Linked DNA regions of Homo sapiens. The protein of the gene in region 1 interacts with the protein of each later gene in a pairwise test. Each region holds a gene or a part of one and is shown on either strand. Other genes may lie near its edges.

Region 1 (5,456 bases):
AATTAAACTGAAACCAAGCATAGCCTTTATGTCATACCAGTAAGAGTGCTCAACAGTCCTTAAGCTAATAACTTATAGTGTCCCACTATGATAAAAACAGGGTCTCACTTTGTCACCCACATGGGAATGCAGTGGCGTGATCATGGCTCACTGTGGCCTCAACCTCCCAGCTCAAGTGATCCTCCCATCTCAGCCTCCCAAGTAGCCGGGACCACAGGCATGCACCACCACACCCAGCTAATTTTTTTGTTTGTTTGTTTTTTTGGAGATAGGGGTCTATGCTGCTCAGGCTGGTCTCGAACTCCTGGGCTCCAAGCGATCCTCCTGCCTCGGCCTTCCAAAGTGCTGGGATTACAGGCATGAGCCACTATGCCTGGCCAATAAAAACATTTTCTAAAGTTACTTACACACAATCTTTTGGGGTACCAGTCCATTATCCATGTGGAGTCTATCTTCCATGAACGCCACCCCCAGCTTGCTGAAGTTGTCCACACTTGCTTCAGCAATTAGCCGATAAGGATCCCCAGGTCTGCAAGCTAATGGCAAACAACAGTCTGACCACTTGACAATCTGAGAAAAAGCAGGAGAGGGAGGAGGTGGGAAAAGACAGGTTGAGATTTTTCTTCTCTAAAATAACCACATACTTTATTTTTCCCTTGAGGCTCCTACCACTAAATTACAGTCATTAATAACAAATTACTGGATATTACATTTTACTAATATCAGAGTTGTTTTGAATTCAGCATTCTCATCTCTACCTGACAACAGTGCTTACGAAACACTAAATATAACTCTCTCATTTAAAAGTAACTGAAGTCTCCACCTTTTTAAGGAATTAAAAGATAAAGGGACATTCCCCAGACACTGGAAAAACACCATGCTGCCCTTTAAAAACAGAGAAGAGGAGAGAACAAGAAGTCCACAATACCCAGTTACTTTCAATGTAACCTGTGGACCCGCTTTTCTCAAAGTGTGGTCCGAGACCAAGTGCAACTGACCTCCCAGGGAGCACATGAGACCTTCAGAGTCCCGAGCACAACTCCCTCCCTATCTGGTGCACTGGACTTTCTGGAGTTGAAGTCCAGGAATCAGGATTTAAAACATGCTTCCCCTGGGGTTCCTGCACTCGAACTGTGAGAACAATCCAAAAAGACTCTCCAGACAGTTCCTCCCTGTAAGGAGGTTCACGTTCCTACCACAAGGGGGACAGGGAGAAAGAGAGCAGGCAAAACACCCGGCTTAGCCTTCCAGTTCTTACTACAGAAGACCGTGACACTGGGGCCTGGAACACCCATGCTCTCTCTGAGGGTTCCCATGGAGAAGACAGCCTGTGAGGTGAAGAGCCCGGCGCTGCAGTCAGGGGTCTGAGGCCGAGTCAAAGGCAACTAATCATCACTGTCTGTCCTCGGGCAAGCTTCCGACCCTCACAGCATCCTAATTTGTAAAACAAGAATACTCTACTAAAAATACAAAAATTAGCCGGGCGTGGTGTCGCACACCTGTAGTCCCAGCTACTCGGGGGGCTGAGGCAGGAGAATCGCTTGAACCCAAGAGGCAGAGGTTGCAGTGAGCTGAGATCGTGCCACTGCACTCCAGCCTGGGTGACAGAGCAAGACTCCATCTCAAAAACATAAATAAATAAATATAATTTAAAGGTTGGTTGTGTTCATGAGATCAAAGAGTATACGTAATGCCCCCAGTAAAAAGCTTAGATTGACTGGAATAAAGTACTCAATTACCGACAGCTGCTTTTATTAGCTGTCACAAATGTGGCTTTAAAAGCAGCAGTGAGCAGCACAGTCTTTTTCTAAGATGCCATGAACGATTGCTCTACTTCCTAAAGATACCTTCTCAGGGACACACTGCCCCGAATTTCATAATTATAGATAAATAATTTTTTATTCCATTTTTATTTATTTGTATTTATTTATTTTTTGAGATGAGTACTCGCTCTATCACCCAGGCTGGTCTTGAACTCCTGGCCTTGAGTAATTCTCCCGCCTCAGCCTCCCGAGTAGCTGGGACAACAGGCTCGGGCCACCACACTGGGCTTGAATTCTATTTTAGATATTGGTGGGCTAGGATTTTAGAACTAACTCCTCCTAAAAACTATTTTTTAAATGCTAGATAAAATAAATGAATAAAGCATTACCTTAAAAGTCTGGAAGAACAGACTAGATAATAGTGAACTTCCAGGCCAAGTGTGGGATAAATCCTGAACCTACAGAGGAAAGGGGTATTCCTGCAAGACACGCCACTTCTGCCCCCAGGGTCCTTGCTCATCCAAGCAACTTGGGTTTCAAAAGTCATCGTCCAACTGGCATAAGCATAGACATATAGAGATATGGTTTGGCTGGGTCCCCACCCAAATTTCATCTCGAACTGTAATCCCCATGTGTCAAGGGACGGACCTGGTGGGAGGTGACAGGATCCTGGGGGCAGTTTCCCCCATGCTGTTCTCGTGATAGTGAGTTCTCATGAGATCTGATACTTTTGAAGTGTTTGGGCTGGGCGCGGTGGTTCATACCTGTAATCCCAGCATTTTGGGAGGCCAAGGTGGGCAAATCACCTGAGCTCAGGAGTTCATGACTAGCCTGGGCAACATGGTAAAACCCCGTCTCTACTAAAAACACAAAAATTAGCCAGGCGTTGTTGTGGGTGCCTATAATCCCAGCTATTCAGGAGGCTGAGGCAGGAGAATCGCTTAAACCCAGGAGTTGGAGGTTGCAGTAAGCCGAGATCATGCCATTGCACTCCAGCCTGGGTGAAAGAGCAAGACTCTGTCTCAATCAATCAATCAATAAAGTGTTTGGTAGTTTCCTCTCTGTCTCTGTCTCTCACCTGCCACCATGTAAGACATACCTTGCTTCCCCCTTTGCCTTCTGCCATGATGGTAAATTTCCTGAGGCTTCTCCAGCCATGAAGAACTGTGAGTCAATTAAACCTCTTTCCTTTAAAAATTACCCAGTCTTGGGCAGTTCTTTCTAGCAGTGTGAAAACAGACTAACACATATAGACCAAGAGAACAGAGCTGACAGTATAGAAATAAACAGATTCATGGACAACTGAATTTGGACAAGGGTGCCAAGACAACTCAATAAGGAAATAATAGTCTTTTCAACGAATGGTACTGGTACAACTACATACTGACGTGTAAAAGAATGAACATAGGCTGGGCATGGTGGCTCATGCCTGTAATCCCAACACTTTGGGAGGCCGAGGCAGGTAGACCACCAGGAGTTTGAGACCAGCCTGACCAACATGGTGAAACCCCATCTCTACTAAAAATACAAAAATTGGCTGGGCGCGGTGTCTCACGCCTGTAACCACAGCCCTTTGGGAGGCCAAGGCAGGTGGACTGCCTGAGGTCAGGAGCTCGAGACCAGCTTGGCCAACATAGTGAAACCTTGTCTCTACTAAAAAATACAAAAAATTAGCTGGGCGTGCTGGCGGGTGCCTGTAATCCCAGCTACTCAGGAGGCTAAGGCAGAAGAACCACTTGAACCCGGGAGGCAGAGGTTGCAGTGAGCCGAGATCGCACCATTGCACTCCAGCCTGGGCAATGAGAGCGAAACTGTCTCAAAAAAAAAAATACAAAATTTAGCTAGGTGGGAGCAGGCACCTGTAATCCCAGCTACTCAGGAGGCTGAAGCTAGGAGAATTGCTTCAACTCAGGAGGCAGAGGTTGCAGTGAGCCAACACTCCAGCCTGGCACTCCAGCCTGGGCACTCCAGCCTGGCGACAGTCTCAAAAAAAACCTATTAAACTTTAAAAGACTCAGATTTGCATTAAATTGATACAGAAAAAGAAAAAAACCACAGATAGAGAAGCGTTAAAGACCTCTTTTAGAAAAAGGAGAAACTGGCCAGGCTCGGAGGCTCACGCCTGCAATCCCACCTGAGAGGTGGAGGTTGTGGTGAGCTGAGATTGCGCCATTGCAGTCCAGCCTGGGCGACAGAGCAAGACTCCGTCTCAAAAAAAAAAAAAAAAAAAAAAAAAAAAAGAATGAGGATAAACCTCTTCCTCACATCATGCAAACCACGTACAAAAATTAACTCAAACTGGATCAAAGACCTCAATATAAGAGCTAAAACTACAAAATTCAGAGAAGGAAAACACAGGCATAAATTGTCATGACTTTTGATCAACCAATGACTTCTTAGATAAGACACCAAAAACAGAAGCAACAAAAGAAGAAATAGATAAATTGAACTTCATCAAACATTCTTGTGCTTCAAAAGATATCAAGAAAATGCAAAGACAACACAGAAAAATAGGAGAAAGTATTGGCAAATCATATAAGAACTCCTACAACTCAACAATAAAAAGACAATCCAATTTAAAAATGGGCAAAGGATGTAAGGCACCCGGCAAAGGCACCTGTAGTCCCAGCTACTAGGGAGGCTGAGGCAGGAGAATGGCGTGAACCCCGGAGGCAGAGCTTGCAGTGAGCCAAGATTGCACCACTGCACGCCAGCCTGGGCGACAGAGCGAGACTCCATCTTAAAAAAAAAAAGAAAGAAAAGAAAATATACAAACGCCCAATAAGCACAAGAAACACTGCTCAACATCAGTCACGAAGGAAATGCATCTCAAAACCACAGTGAGACACAAAGTCATACCCACTAGGATGGCTGGAATCAAAAAAGATACCAACAAGGACAAGGAAAAACTGGAACTCTAATACACTGCTGGTAGAAATTAAGGTGCTGCAGCTGCCTTGGAAGACTTTGGGAGTTCCTCAAAGAGTTAAACATAGAGTTACCATATGATCTAGTAATTCTACTCCCCAGTATATACCTAAGATAACTGGACCTGAACATACGAACACATCTAGATTAGGCTCAGAGGATCTTCCCAAAGGCAAGCCCCAGAGGCCTTCACAAAAGAAACAAACTACGTTCACTGAGAAACAACTGGAAGATCTGAACTTGTTCAATAAGAACGTATACCCAAACCCCAGCCTTCAGAAAGATATGGTCTCCAAAATGGAAATAGATCCAAAAGTACTGTAGGTTTGGCTCAAAAACCTTGGAGCAAAACTCAAGAAAGCCAAATGCAAGCATATTTGGCAAAAACAAGAAGCTCAACAACAGCAAATATCTGAGAATGAGGCTGGGTGCGGTGGCTCACTCCTGTAAATCCCAGCACTTTGCGGGGCTGAGGCAGAAGGATCAGGAATTCAAGACCAACCTGGGCAACATGGCAAAACCCTGTCTCTATGAAAAACTACAAAAAATAGCCAGGAGCCAGGTGTGTTGATGGGCACCTGTAGTCCCCGCTACTCAGGAGGCTGAGGTGGGATGATCGCTTGAGCCTGGGAAGTTGAGGCTGCAGTGAGCTGTGATCATGCCACTACACTCCAGCCTGGGCAACAGAGTGAGACCCTGTCTAAAAAAAAAAAAAAAATCTGAGGGTAGACTCAAGACCAATCCTTCTCAGGGAAATATGGACAC
Region 2 (3,500 bases), on another chromosome or scaffold:
TAAGATCTTTTTATTACCTTCAAATAAGAAAGATCACTGAAGTAAAAACCAATCGCATACTCTTCAAAAGCTACAAGTCATACCTGGCTGGCAAGTTCTCGTGTTGGTGATATAATCAGGGCTCTGAAGCCTTTATTTGCGGGTTGTTTCAGCTGCATTAAAATAGGAATGCTAAAAGCTAATGTTTTTCCAGATCCAGTTGGAGCAGAAGCCAGAAGTTCCCGACCCTAAAAACATAGGGTATATTAAATACTACAAAGAAAGTACATAAATTTTTCAGAGCCTGGTCAAATAACGCTACCAGCCATAGAAAAAAACAAATACAATTTTACATAATGAATCTAATCTTTCAAGTCATATCTGCTTTCCTAACATCATCCATCCATGCCACCATCACCCCAACAAAGTTTCTGAGCATTGCCCTTAAATTCCCTTTGAATGAGTGTAAAGAATACGGGTAACTAAAACCCAAAGATAATCCATAACCTAAGTTATATCCATTATTTCAATTTTTCTTTTCCACTAAACTATTGTCAAAATAAAATTATAAAACCAACTTTTTGTCCTGGTATCTGTATTGTTCAATCACTAGGGAAGGTTTTATTGAACAACAAAATGGCTGAAGAAATAAAAAATGGCAATGACCTGAGGGCAGAGTAATTTACAGGAGACAATTTTCAAAAACTCACTGTGTTTTTTTTTTTTTTTTTTTTGACACAGAGTCTCACTCTGTCACCCAGGCTGGAGTGCAGTGGCGAGATCTCGGCTCACTGCAACCTCCGCCTCCCGGGTTCAAGTGGTTCTTCTGCCTTGGCCTCCCGAGTAGCTGGGATTACAGGCACACGCCACCATGCCCAGCTAGTTTTTGTATTTTTAGTAGAGACAGGGTTTCACCATATTGGCCAGGCTGGTCTTGAACTCCTGACCTCGTTATCTGCCCGCCTCGGTCTCCCAAAGTGCTGGGATTAGAGGCGTGAGCCACCGCACCTGGCCCACTGTGATTTTTTAAGCTTTAAGCTAAAGCCATGACAGAAACAATCTTAAACAAAAATTAAAAGCAAATTTACTATAACATAAGTCAACAGCATCATTTAAATGTATGAATGTATTCTCATTTCATCTCTCAAAGAAAATGAAAAGGACTAGTATAGAGATGAAAAGGTATCTTATATCCTTTGGAAACCAGAACTGAAGGCCATCTCGGTTACATGGGGAAAAAACCCAACTCTTATTGCTACAGAAACAAACCTCAGAAAAACTTAACGTCCGAAAACCTAAGTTAATCCATACCTCTATCAACAAGTGACTGGATAACAAATTGTGGTATATTCATACAACATAATACTACTTGGTAACAAACTATTGCTCTATGTAATACAGAAGAATCTCAAAGCATTACGCAAAGTGAAAGAAACCAGAAATAAAAGATTAATGTGTGATTCCACTCATATAAAACTCTAGAAGAGGCAAAAGGAATATACAGCAGTAGAAATCAGAATAGCAGTTGCCTCTGAGCAGGGGCAGGGTGAGGACTGAATGGAAAGGGCACAAGAAAATTGTCTGGGGTAATACATATGTTCTCTATCTTCACTGGAATAGTGGTTACACAGGGCATGCATTGCTGAAACTCACTAAACTGGGCACTTAAAAATCTATGCATTTTATTGTATGTAAAGTATACTTTAATAATAAAAAGTATTCGGAAAAATAAGTCAGTTTATGTACAAGAACTTTAGAAAGCATTTGTATTTCTGGAGTAGTTCCTGGGCATTATAAACTAAATAATGAATGTATGAATGAATAGAACATAATCCCCATTCTCCAAGGGGTTACACACTAGTAAAATGAAAAAGATAAATATGATTGGTGCGAATACAAAGTAGTTTAAAATGTAAAATAAATGTTGCAAGGAAAAGAACACACCAAATACCATGGAAGAACTGCAGTGTGGGGGAAAGGGTACTAGAAAAGGAAGAAGATCACATCTAGATGGAGTGATCAAGACAACTTTTATGGAGGCACAGGCATTTGATGAACCTTAAAAGGAAGTGAAGGATTTTAACAGGGGAGATAAGGTGGAAAGAAAGAGTTCAAGAAGAGAGGGAAGAGAATGAGCAAACACACAGAGGAAGGAATGTTACAGGCATTCTAGATCTTCATACTCACATGCAGCATAACTGGGATGGCTTGCATTTGGATTGGCGTAGGCATTTGGAAACCTGCATCTAGAATGTTCTGAAGTAGTCGAGAATTGATTTTATATTCCTGGTCAAGTTGCTGAAATGTAGCAATTGGGTCAGGAAGATCGGTTCCTTGGACGTGAATTTTGTGTTTATTCCGCAAGAAGTTTATCTGAAAAGTGAAGTAAAGAGGCCACCATGGATATGGCCAAATAAATACATTCTCAGATGTTATAAAGCAACATTAACAGTTTCTGGGATAACCTTTAGCAGCATATGAAACTTTTTGGTTAAATCCAAGAATCAAAACATCACAGATATTAGGTACATTTCATGCCCTTTCATAGAAAACCTTCATAAAATGTCTATGCTTTCTTCATATTAATGTGTTATTGTCATAGTCATAACTTCTAACCTTAAATAAACTTCTTAGAAGGCAGGCATTGAACCCATCTACTATTTTAATATGGTGGTTAACATACAAGTATCATTGCTTTTTGATGATTTACCCTAAAACTCTGATTATTAAAACTGAGTGCCAAAAAGTGGAGTCTAGTAGTGTTGATTTGGTTTGTTTCCCCATTCTCTGGACCAGAGACAGCCAAATTCTGGTTTCTGGGTTACTGAAGCATTGCCATAGTAATCCCTGAAGTGAGCTGAATACACCTCTCCATCAGGAATACGGCAGGTGTACAGCAGACACAAAAAAGGTATATTTGTTGTTTCTTCCATATCCTACTCCTCTTATTCCCAAGTCATAAAATACCTTTCTTAAGAATTCTAACCCTCTAATCTGTGTCAGAGGAAATCCTTCTAAACCGGTGAGCTCAACAGAGAAGAAAGGGAGCCAAATTTTGTTTGTTTATCGAAAGCAGTTACGAAATTTTAAAAATTTAATTCTAAACATACTATCAATCTTGAAACTTGAGCAGGTCAAGAATTTTATATATGTATCAGCAATTTAAACTTTAAAATGTTCACCCACAGCACAAATGCCTACTTTGCTTTAAGTTTTCATTAAAGTAAAATCTAAATGAATGTAATTAACCTTCTATCTTAACAAAACTATATTCACATTAACAACAGAATAACCCAAATCCAGCGAATAAGTCACTAGGTCAGAAAATATATATACTTTTGGCCCCAAAATATTTTTCTAACCTTTTCTTTTCTGAGATTCTCCAACTTTCCGGAAGTTAGTTTACTTTCTCTCTGAACTTTTTTGTCTTCAATCTTTGCTTCTACAGATGACATCCACTGTATAGTAGCACCTTCTTCTTGGGAAGCAATTTCTAAAATATATTTTTAAAAAGTAAAAGA

What was found. Proteins that work in one complex are often made in the same cells at the same time.
Region 2: the proteins of HLCS (region 1) and DDX52 interact in a two-hybrid assay, tested with the Homo sapiens proteins (one large-scale study listed by BioGRID and IntAct).

Annotation. Positions count from the first base shown.
Region 1 is NC_000021.9:36,938,425-36,943,880, forward strand, and holds part of HLCS (biotin--protein ligase), read right to left. Parts: intron 571-5,456; coding exon 408-570; intron 1-407. UniProt on the Homo sapiens protein: Biotin--protein ligase catalyzing the biotinylation of the 4 biotin-dependent carboxylases acetyl-CoA-carboxylase, pyruvate carboxylase, propionyl-CoA carboxylase, and methylcrotonyl-CoA carboxylase.
Region 2 is NC_000017.11:37,629,947-37,633,446, forward strand, and holds part of DDX52 (probable ATP-dependent RNA helicase DDX52), read right to left. Parts: intron 3,473-3,500; coding exon 3,342-3,472; intron 2,353-3,341; coding exon 2,167-2,352; intron 228-2,166; coding exon 84-227; exon of another isoform or gene 1-83.